Regions from separate parts of the Homo sapiens genome. Here region 1 is linked to region 2. The links come from fine-mapping of genetic effects on gene expression. A gene starts in region 2. The other region holds a variant in brackets. All regions are shown on one strand. Distances are between the middles of the regions. Region 1 overlaps ALOX5 (arachidonate 5-lipoxygenase). Region 2 holds the start of ALOX5 (arachidonate 5-lipoxygenase).

Region 1 (5,000 bases), 45 kb before region 2:
CTTTTTCAAGGCCACACAGGCAGGTAACAGCCACCTTGATCACCTGGCCTAGGGGCAGTGACCTAGCTTTCTCCTGCATCTTCAGCTTTCTCCTGTGCCAAACTGTGGCCCAGGCTGGGCACCAGCTGTTGGCCATGTGCCCGGTGAGCCCCCCACCCCTCGCCCCTACTTCTCCCAGGACGGGCCGCATTTCTGCACTGTCCCGCCTCACTGGGAAGGAAACTCTCTTTCTCAATTTGCTTTAATGAGGCCATTGAGGTTCACCTAACCTCTGTCTCCCTGCTCTTTCCTTCTGCTACCAGCTTTTCCATTTTTTACGCCACAGTTGTGCTGTGCAGGGCAGGAGCAAAGCCTGCTGAGGAGGGCTGGCCCCCTTCCAGGTACAGCAGGTGGCTAGGAGGAACTGCGTGCCAGAATTACTCAGAAGCAGCGGCGAGGAAACCAAGCTGTCGCCAGCCAGAGGTTTAACGGGGAAGGCCTCCTCGGTGACTTCAGCCAAGTTTCAGTTTCCTGCCAGTGGGCACTGAGTTTAACCCACTCTAGGCGGGGAGTGTAGCCATCCAGATTTTAGCAAGGGCCCCAGGGGATTCTGACGCAAGCTATACTTTGAGAACCACTGCTGAAGAGTTTGCAATGTTTTCCAAATTAATTTGACTACAGAACAAATCATTTTTTTGAGGGAAACATGACTTCATGCTTTGTATTAACTCTTGGTCTTATTTTATGATGCATTTTTAACAACATGATGCTACCTTAGCAAATAAAATTGAAATTTTCTAGCCTCGTCTGATTTTTAGATGGGATACCACCCTACATTTTCCAAACAAATTTATTTTACAATGGGACACATCCCTGATTTCATAACAAAATTTAATGAAAGTCAATATGTTTTATAGGCATCAGTTAATAGAAGGGGATTATTTTTTAAATTTCCAAGGATTTCAGAGGCTTTCGGGTAGCATTTGGGAAGTTAAAAGTGGGAGAATCCTACTTGTGTCACAGGAAAAGTGGTTCCTATGAGTGCTTTGGTGACTTGGGGCCAAATGGTTTCTGAGTTGGGATGACGATAAGAGGGGATGTGGTCTTCTTCCCATATACAAACCCACGCTTTGCTTTCCAGTGCCAGGCCAGCAGGCCCCCTCCTCTTCCGGCCTCTCTTTCCTCCGCCATCACTTCTCCCGATCCCCAGCCTGGGTCCTCACCCTTCCTCCTGCTGCTACGTCCCTCCCTTCCTCCACAGGCACCCTGCCCGTCCACTGAGCTCAGGGCCCTTCTCTCCTGGCCTGGCCCCTCCGCAGCCTTCCTTGCCTGGGGGATATCGCTCCTTCCCTACACCCCTGGTGCCTTTTGAAACAGGGTCTCACTCTGCCGCCCAGGCGGGAGTTCAGTGGCGCAGATCACTGCAGCTTCCACCTCCCCGGCTCAAGCGATCCTCCCGCTCGGGAATCCCCGAACACTGGGATTACAGGCGTGAGCCTCCGCACCCACTCCCTACCGATCATCCCCCTTCAGGACGCTGCCATCCATGTAGCTGGGTCGTCTGGAGCACGGGGCATGTGGCTGGCCTGCGGGGCTGGGGGAGGGCCGGTGGGAGTGGCTGCCCTCAGAGCCCACCCCCTAGGCCTCTGCCTGCCCCCAGGTTCCCTCTCCCCCGTCCCTTGTCGGGAGTCACTCGTCAGCTTCTCTTCTCAGCCCGGCTGCGCAGCGCTCTCAACCCAACCCCTGGACTCATCTTCGCCCCAGCCTCCTTCGTGCCCAGCGTCCCTTGTAAATGACCCCCCCGGCCGGGTGCCCCGCTTTCTCTCTCGGCCTCTTCCGCGTGGTCTGCTCTCCGCCCGCCTGCGCTCGCCCGGCCTCCCTGCCTCTGCGCCTTCACCTGACCGCAAAGGCGGCCAGGGCAGCCTCCGCGCGGCCTGACAGTCACGGCTCCCAGTTTGTCCCTGGACGTGGGAAACTCGGGCTCATAGCGCCTCTACGTACACTGCGGCACAGACTGGCGTTTCCTACGGCGCCTTCACTGGAAAGCGCCCCTGTGGTCCTGGGGAGAGGGCGGCTCCATCCGCCACCCTTCCCGGAGCTGCCCCCGCCCATTCTCATGGGAGGAAATCGCAGGGCGTGTGAGCCCCCGACCCCTCGCCCCCACCTCTTCCAGGACCGGCCGCATTTCTGCACTGTCCCGCCCCACTGGGAAGGAAACTCTCTTTCTCAATTTCCTTTAATGAGGACATTGTCTTTTCAGCCCTGCCAC[C/G]CCCTGCAATCGTCTTCCAGGCTGCAAACAGCGAGTGGGGAGGTGAACACATCAGCTTTTCCTCCCTCCACACCACCAGGAAATTTCGCAAACCACTTGGCTCTCGGCGGCCTGGCCTCGCCACACCTGTGCCCACAGTCTCTCTCCGCTGCAGCCCCCTGTGCCATTCTCCAGGCCCCACGTACCTCTGCCTGGGCCCAGTAAGACCTGGTCAGATGGCCCCCGGCTGCAAAGCCTTCCTGGGCCCCATCAGAGAGGACGCCCAGGTGAAGCGAGGGTCCCCTGCCCACCCTGCAAGCGCAGGGGCCCTTCCAAGAGTGCAGCCCTAGGCCGGTGTGTGATGGTGGAGACGCGGTCCCAGAGGGCCTGAACCAAGAATGGAGAAGACAAAGGCTGTCTTTAGGGAGAAACTTCCCTGAGGGGCTGATGTGTGCGATCCCATTTTAATCTCACAACCCTGGGGAGGAGCTGGGGCCGGGTCTCATTGTTCATTTGAGGACACCGAGGCTCAGGGAACTTAGACGACTTTCCTAGGGTCCCCCCAACCCCCACCGGCCCAGGGCCCTCTCCCAGGCACCCCTCATCCCCACACAGGCTCCTCTAAGCTGCTTCCTTGTGGTCCAGCCCCCTTGGCTCAGCTCCTCAAATACAGGGACACCTCTTCTCTCCCCCGCAGAACTCAAGGGTCTCCATCCACTGTGCCAGCACAGAGGCGGTGCTCAGAGTGGGGCTAAGCTTACTGTCCAGCCTGCTGGGCCAGGAGGGGCAGAAGGGCCCCTCTCAGGATTCCTTCGCTCTGCTCCTGCCAATAGGCCATCACTCAAGGGGCTAATGACAGGACGATGTGGAGAAACGTGGGCTGCAGCACTTCTGGGGCCAAGGGCAGGGTGGGCGGCACTGGGGAGTACAGGGGAGGGGACCTCACTGGGGCCAGAGGCTTCTAGAAGCTTCTGCAAGAAGGGGCCCCTCACCCATGTCTTGGCCAAGAAGTGGGGAGGGTGGGTGTGGCAAAGGAAACAGCTAGGTCAGAGACAAGAGATGCTCTGCAAAGCCCTGCTGGCTCCCCACGGTGGAGCATCCTATGCATGTAGGACCTGAGAGATGGCAGGGGCGGGTGCGTCCCTATGGATGTATCTCCATTTCTGGGCAGAGACATCTGGGCTCTCACCTGCAATTGAGCCAACCAAGAAATTATATTTACTTTTTAGAGCGAGCCTCCAACAAATTATACAAGCACTTGAGAATAAGCCCTCCCACTGTCTTGAGAGATGGAGCCCAGGGAGGCAGCTGGAAAGATGCTCCTGCCCTCACTCAGGAGAGATGGTGGAGCTGGGAGAGGAGGAGGCACTCCCTGGGACCCAGCAGATGGACTTGACTCAGCAAATAGATGCAACCATATGTGGGGGGTGGGGAGGCCCAGAAAGGCATTACAGGCCAGTGTTCTTAATCCTGGCTATACACTGGAATCCACCAGTAGCCCTAAAATATAACTGTGCTGGACTTCCCCTGGTTCCACAGTTTGTGCAGAGTGGGCAGCATGGAGTCTGTAACACTAAACACACAGGATTGAGAACCATATGTCTAGGCTGTTGTTAGCCATGATGGGGATACATGAAAAGGAGGTGCACAGTTACCTTCTATACCACAGGATAGGTGCTCATTAAACCCTGTTAAAATGGACTGTGACCCAGCTGGCACTCAGGGGCACTCAGGGGCCAGGTGGGTCACACTTTCATTTTAATAGGATTTAATGAGCACCTATTCTGTGACAGCTGCTAAGATACAGAGGCTCCTGAGATACAGAGATGACAATGACCTTCAGAAACACTGAACAGAGATAAGAAAGGCACAGTCTGGCCTTCACTCCACCATTAATTCCTCCATCCATCCATCCATCCATCTATCCATCCATCTCTCTGTCTATACTTCCATCCATCCACCATCCATTCACCATCCACCCATCAATCCATCCACCCATCTATCCATCCATCCATCTCACTATCTGTCATCCATCCATCCATCCACCATCCATGAATCCATCCATCCGTATATCAATTTCTCATCTATCTCTCCATCCATCCCCCATCCACCTCTTCTTCCATCCTTCCTCCTTCCCTTCATCCATCCATTCATCATCCATCCCTCAACCCATCCATCTGCCTGTCCATCGGTTTGATTGTCCATCTGTCCAGTATTCCTCCATTCCCTCCAAACTGGGTGGCAGTACTCTCCACCTCACTACCTCACCATCCTTATTATTCCCTCCAAACTGTCTCTTTCACAAGGGCCTTCTGTCCTGCCTGTCCCATCCTGGTCTGGGACCTATCCCACTAAAGCTACATGGCTTTGATCAACAATCCCAATCCCAGAGTAGGGGAAGGGAAGTGAGCCCCTAACTGCCGTGATGTTTCCAGGGAGATGGTGGATACTGCTGCATTACTAATCCAGATGTTAGGTTTTAATTTTTCTCTCCAGTAGACCCCAATTGTGGTAGGAGAAAAATGCCCCAGCTTTGGACACAAACAGACCTGGATTCAAATCCTGGTTTTGCCAATTTCTGCCTAAATGACTTTAGGCAAACTCCTTGACCTTGACCCCTTGGAGACTCAGTTTCCTCACCTAGAAATGGTCAATAATATTATTTACCTCCCAGGATGGCCATGAAGCTTAAAATAGATTATTGTACCCCCCAAAACACCGACACAATGTTTAGAAATAAATAATATTATTTTAAGCTTTGAAGTCTGGCTGG
Region 2 (5,511 bases):
CCCCCCGCCCCACCCCTGACTTATAGCCCTCTCAACCCAATGGAAATGTGACATGCAAATCTCTCCTGAAATTTGCCCCTGGGATTCCGGCTGAGGTGTTTAATTATAATGTCATTTGAATGACTTCTCAGGGTAGGGGAAGACAGACCGAGAGAGGGAGATAGTGGACAAAACAGTGCCTTCACTCTTTGTCCGAAGAGCCCGCTATGGCCACGTTATCATGTCCCCTGCAGGAGGAAAGCACACACGGGGTGCCCGTGCTGTGCAGTGTGAGCACACCAATGGCCTGTGCTTCTAGAACCTTATGATGTGTGGAGGAGAATGGGGAGGAGGAAGCACTTACAAAGGGGAAGTAGCCTGTACCCTGTCCTTCTCCCCCAGGTGTGGGGAATCCATGAAATAATGGAAGTAAATGAAGGTGCGTCAGAAATGGCAGAGGGTGCCATCACCCTAAATGGACGACACATTAACTCCAGGGCACCGCAGTCCTCAGGGTCAGTTCCCCGACTGGGGCAACTAAGCAACTGAAGGTTGCTCTTGTACTCAACACCTAACTCTTCTTGAAGGGAGCTCAAGCCAGGATGCTAGTGAACTTGGCTGAGGGCCATGTCGTGCTACAGCGAGGGTATGGGCTCCTGGATAGGAATCGAGCCCATGGAGAGCTTGGAATCCAGAAAAAGAGTAGTTTTTACTTACTTTAGGCTCTGCACACCTAAAACACAAATTTTATCCAAGAGTAATCAGTTGAAACATGAACTTGCCGGTTGTATTTGTCCATTATGAGCAATTTCACAAGGTTTGATCAAATAATAAACTAAATGGTGAGAAGGCAGCTTGGTAAAGTCTAAATCTTTTTGGTCCAGTTAGGAGCTGGGGTGGGGTGGAAGGGAACTGATATTCCCTGCGCACCTGCAGTATGTCTGGGACTATTACCAGTCATTTACGGAGCGCTTCCTCTGTGCCAGGTACTGGATTAGGCACTTCATTAAAGGCTCAGTGAGAACTGCGACCTGCCCATGCTCATGGAAAAGAGTCGTGGGGCTGGAATTCAGGTCCAGATCAGCATTAGGAACTAGCTTCCAAATGCTGAGGGCTCCCTCGCGTCCTCACACCTAGCGTGGAAGTGTTCCCTGGTGTACATTCTGCTGGGAGGGAGTGCAGCCCCTCCATTTAGGAAAAGCCTCTCCTGGCCTGGGTTCTGTTCCTTCCCTTTAATTTCCTCTGGGGACTGTCCTGAGAATGTAAGCTGCCCAGGTGCCGTCTGAGCCACCAGATGGGCCTGGGCTCACCCATGACTCATGGACCAGACTGAAGCCAACCCTCCATTTTCAGCTGGGGAAACTGAGGCCCAGACAGACGGTAGAGTGAGCTGGTGGTCATGTCTGGACAGAACTCAGGCCTCTGGACCCGCTGACGTGCACCCTTCCCCACGGCTCACAGCTGGCTGCTCCGAGGTGCCCTCAGAGTTCTGTGAGCATGACTCATCTGCCTCTCCCTCCCTGTGCGACCTGCAGAAGGAGCCTAAGGAAGAGGTGGCACAAGAAACGCGGCCCAGTGAAGGGGGCTCCGGAGCCTCGGAGCCCAGATCTTGAAGTGGAGGGGAAACCTTGGGCCTTCTCCTCCCAGGGAAGACGCCTTGCAGGCGGCACGCGGGAAGTCTCCGTTTCCGACAGGGGTCGCGGCCGCCGCGAGGGGTCCTGGACGCTTGCCCACCAGGGTACCCACCGGCCACTGGGAGCCCAGGGCACGCCCCACCGCAGTTCTGCCCTCCCTGACAGGGTCCTGGACACCCCCAGTCCTGTCCGGGCCGCCCCGACGGGCCCTCGGCGCCCCCGCCCAGGCCTCTGCCGTCCAAACCGGGTCCCGGACGCACCTCAGCCCGCGCTCCACCCGTGCCCCGCCCGCGCTCACCGCGCCACGCTCGAAGTCGTTGTAGAAGGGCTTGTCCAGCAGGTGCTTCTCGCTGCAGCCCGCCGAGCCCACGAGGCTGAGGTAGATGTAGTCGTCAGTGCCGGCGAACCACTGGCTGCCAGTGGCCACGGTGACCGTGTAGGAGGGCATGGCGCGGGCCGCGGGAGCAGCGAGCGCCGGGAGCCTCGGCGCGGCGGTCCAGGTGTCCGCATCTAGCGCCGCAGCCTCCTCCCACCACTGGTCCCTGGCCCCGGTCCCGGCCCCGCCCCGGTCTGGCTCCAGGCTCCCGGCTGCCCCCGCCCCCGCCCCCGCCCCCGCCCCCGCCCCCGCAGTACTTCTCTCCCACTCTTCACGCGGCGCCGACTGGGCGGGACCTCGCCTCGGGCGGGGCAGGGGCCTCGCTCCTGGGTCTCTCCTCAGCGAGGTGTCTGTTCCTGCAGCCAGGGGACTGGGGCAACCTCGGCTGCCACCCCTCATCCATTCGTTCACTCGTTCTCTCCTGAATTGCTTCCACCCTTTGCCCTGCCTGCCTGCCTCGGCTTCGCCCAAGGCCAGGCTCCTGTAGGCCCTGGGGTGGAGCTGCGGGGACTCCCTACAAATCTAGGCACAGCCTCTGCTCTCCCCAAGTTCTCAGTGCCACTTGCGGTACTTGGAGCAGGGGTGCTCCGGGAGTCTGCAGAGGAAGAGCGACCCATGAGAGAATCAGAAGGGCTTCCTGGAGGAGGCCACCCCAGCGCTGATACTGAGGATGGATTCTGGAGCACAGAGGCTCCTTCAGCGCGGGCTTCTTCACTGGCTGGACCTGCGGCTCCTGGCGGGGGCAGGCGGGCGCCGAGACCGCGCCCAGGCCCAGAGATGGCCAGTGGTCGCGGGAGGCAGGCGGGACGGCACATCTGGACATGCGGGGCTGTCTAGGGGAGGCCAGGGGTCACGGGTCGGCTCTCTGAATCGCGGCGGGCAAATGCCTGGAAGGGTGTGGAGAAGGTTTCGCGCGCTCCTGGGCGGCTTCCCGCGGCTGGGGCCTGACCCCCAGGTTCCCGCCCACTCCTGGCGCCCGCCTCTCCCAGCCCCGCCGGCAGCGCAGGGTCTGACGGGCACACAGTCGCGTGTATTGATCTCGGCTAAGTTTAAACACTAGCTCACCGTGCGTGGGGCGGCGGGGATGTGAAGTCCCCAAAGGCGGCTGCCTACATTCTCACCAACGCTTCATGTCTGTGAAGCAGCAGAGTCCCTGTAGCATCTCCTCATACTGTCTTGGGTTTGTGCACCTGGCAAATGGCTTTGAACATCTTTTCACATGCTTGTTGGATATCTGTATATTTTTGGAGAGATGTATATTCAGATGCTTGACTCTTTGGAAAACTGGGCTATTTATCTTTTTTATCATTGAATTGCATTATTTATATATCCTGGATAGAAGTCTCTAATCGGATACATGACTTACAGACATTTTTATTGCTTCTGCGGGTTGTGTTTTCACTTTCTTGATGATGTTTGAAGCACAAAAGTATTTAACTTTAAGTCCAATTTCTTTTGTCGCTTGTGATTTTGGGGTCCTATCTGAGAAACCACTGCCTACAATAACATCTTAAAGATTTACTCCTAGGTTTTCCTCTAGGATTATTATAGTTTTAGCTTTTCATTTACATCCGTGACCCATTTTGAGTTAGTTTTTATGCATGGAGCGATAGAAGAATTCAAATTCATTGTGTTGCATGTGCATGTCCGGTTGTCCATGCATCATTTGTTGAATTCATTATTCTTTTCCCATTGCGTTGTCTTGACACCTTATTAAAAAGTAATTCATTATAAACATAACGGTTTATTTCTGGACATTGATTCTAGTCCACTGATCTGTAATGTACATGCTATACAGTGCCACACTGCTTGATTACCGCAGTGCTATAGTAAGTTTTGAAATTGGAAAATGTTAATCCACCAACGCTGTTCTTTATTTTTCAATATTGTTTTGGTTATTCTGGATCCTTTGAGATTCCATATAAATTATAGAATCAGCTTGTCAATTTCAGCCAAAAAGCAAGCTAGGATTTTGATAGGGGTTGAGTTGAAGCTGTAGATCAATTTGGGGAATATTGTCACTTTAACAATATTAAGTCTTCTGATCCATAGAATATGTTTCAGCTTATTTAAATCTTTTCTTTTCTTTTCGACTCTTTGGAGTCTCCCTCTGTTGCCCAGGCTAAAGTGCAGTGGTACAATCTCGGCACACTGCAACCTCTGCTTCCCAGGTTCAAGTGATCCATTTACTTAAATCTTTTCTGATTTATTTCAAAATATTTTGTAGTTTTCAGTGCACTTTTTATTTCTAAATAATTTATGTTTGATACTATTGTAAATGGAATTTTAATTCATTTTGAGATTGTTAATTGCTAGTATATAGAAAAACACTTGATTTTTGTACATTCATTTTATATTCTGCAAACTTGCTGAACTTGTTTATTAGTTCTAATGGTTTGTGTGTGTGTACATGTGCACATTTTCTATATGCAAGATCATGTCATGAGCGAGTAGAGATAGTTTTACTTCTTCTTTTATTTGGAAGCCTTTTATTTCTTTTTCAGGGATAATTGCCCTAGCCAGAACCTCAGTACAAGGTCAAATGGAAGTGGCAAAAGCAGGCATCTTTGTCTTGTTCCTGGTTCAAGAGGTGAACACCCAGCCTTTCTGTATTAAGTTTGATGCTAGCTGGGGGTTTCCACAGATGCCATTTATCAGGTTGAGGGAGTTCCCTTTTATTTCTTTTGTTTTAAAGTGTTTTTATCATGAAATTTTCTGTATCAGTCGAGATACGAAATTTTTTCCTGTATGCTATATTAATATTATGATTATTTTCGTTTTAAAATATTTGATTGACAAATCAAAGTTTCTATTTCAAGGGGTAAAATGTGATGATTTGATATATGTATATATTGAATGCTGATTGTCACAGTCAAATTAACATATCTATCACCACCTATAGTTACCATTTGTGTGTGTGTATGTTGGGGGGGTGCTGGGGATGCTTAAAATCTGCTCTTATCCAATTTCAAGTAATAACGCAGTTATAAACTATAGTCACCATGCTGTACATTTGATCCCCAGAACTTATTCATCTTTTTTTTTTTTTTTTTTTTGAGACAGGGTTTCGCTCTGTCACCCAGGCTGCAATGCAGTGGCACTATCTTGGCTGACTGCAGCCTTGACTTTCCAATTTCAAATGATCCTCCCCCCTCAGCCTCCTGACTAGCTGGGACTACAGGTGTATGCCACCACTCCCAGCTGATTCTTTTATTTTTATTTTTTGTAGAGATGAGGTCTCACTTTCTTGCCTAGGCTGGTCTCAAGCAATCCCTCTGCCTCAGCCTTCCAAAGTATTGGGATTACCAACATGAGCCATCGCACCTGGCCTTCATCTCATAACTGAAAGTTTATACTCTTTGCCCAATATTTTGCTTCTTCCCCACATCCCCTAGCTCCTGATAAATACTGTTCTACTTATTCGTCTTCAAGTTTGAAATTTTTAGATTCGCATATAAATGAGATCATACAATATTTGTATTTCTGTGTCTGGCTTATTTCACTTAACATAATGTCCTCTGG

What was found.
Region 1: its variant is fine-mapped to the expression of ALOX5 in whole blood (TOPMed, PIP above 0.99).

What each region holds. Positions count from the first base shown.
Region 1 is chr10:45,416,088-45,421,087 of GRCh38, reverse strand. All of the region lies in intron 4 of ALOX5 (arachidonate 5-lipoxygenase), which reads right to left. Among named protein-coding and RNA genes, the nearest start is that of ALOX5, 44 kb to the right of the region's middle. RefSeq lists enhancers at 234-735, 764-1,455, 1,456-2,149. The variant C/G (reference allele first, on the strand shown) is at 2,249.
Region 2 is chr10:45,370,830-45,376,340 of GRCh38, reverse strand. It overlaps ALOX5 (arachidonate 5-lipoxygenase), which reads right to left and starts at 2,125. Exons shown (of 14, transcript NM_000698.5): 1 at 1,912-2,125. The coding sequence starts at 2,061. RefSeq lists enhancers at 1,138-1,746, 1,747-2,357.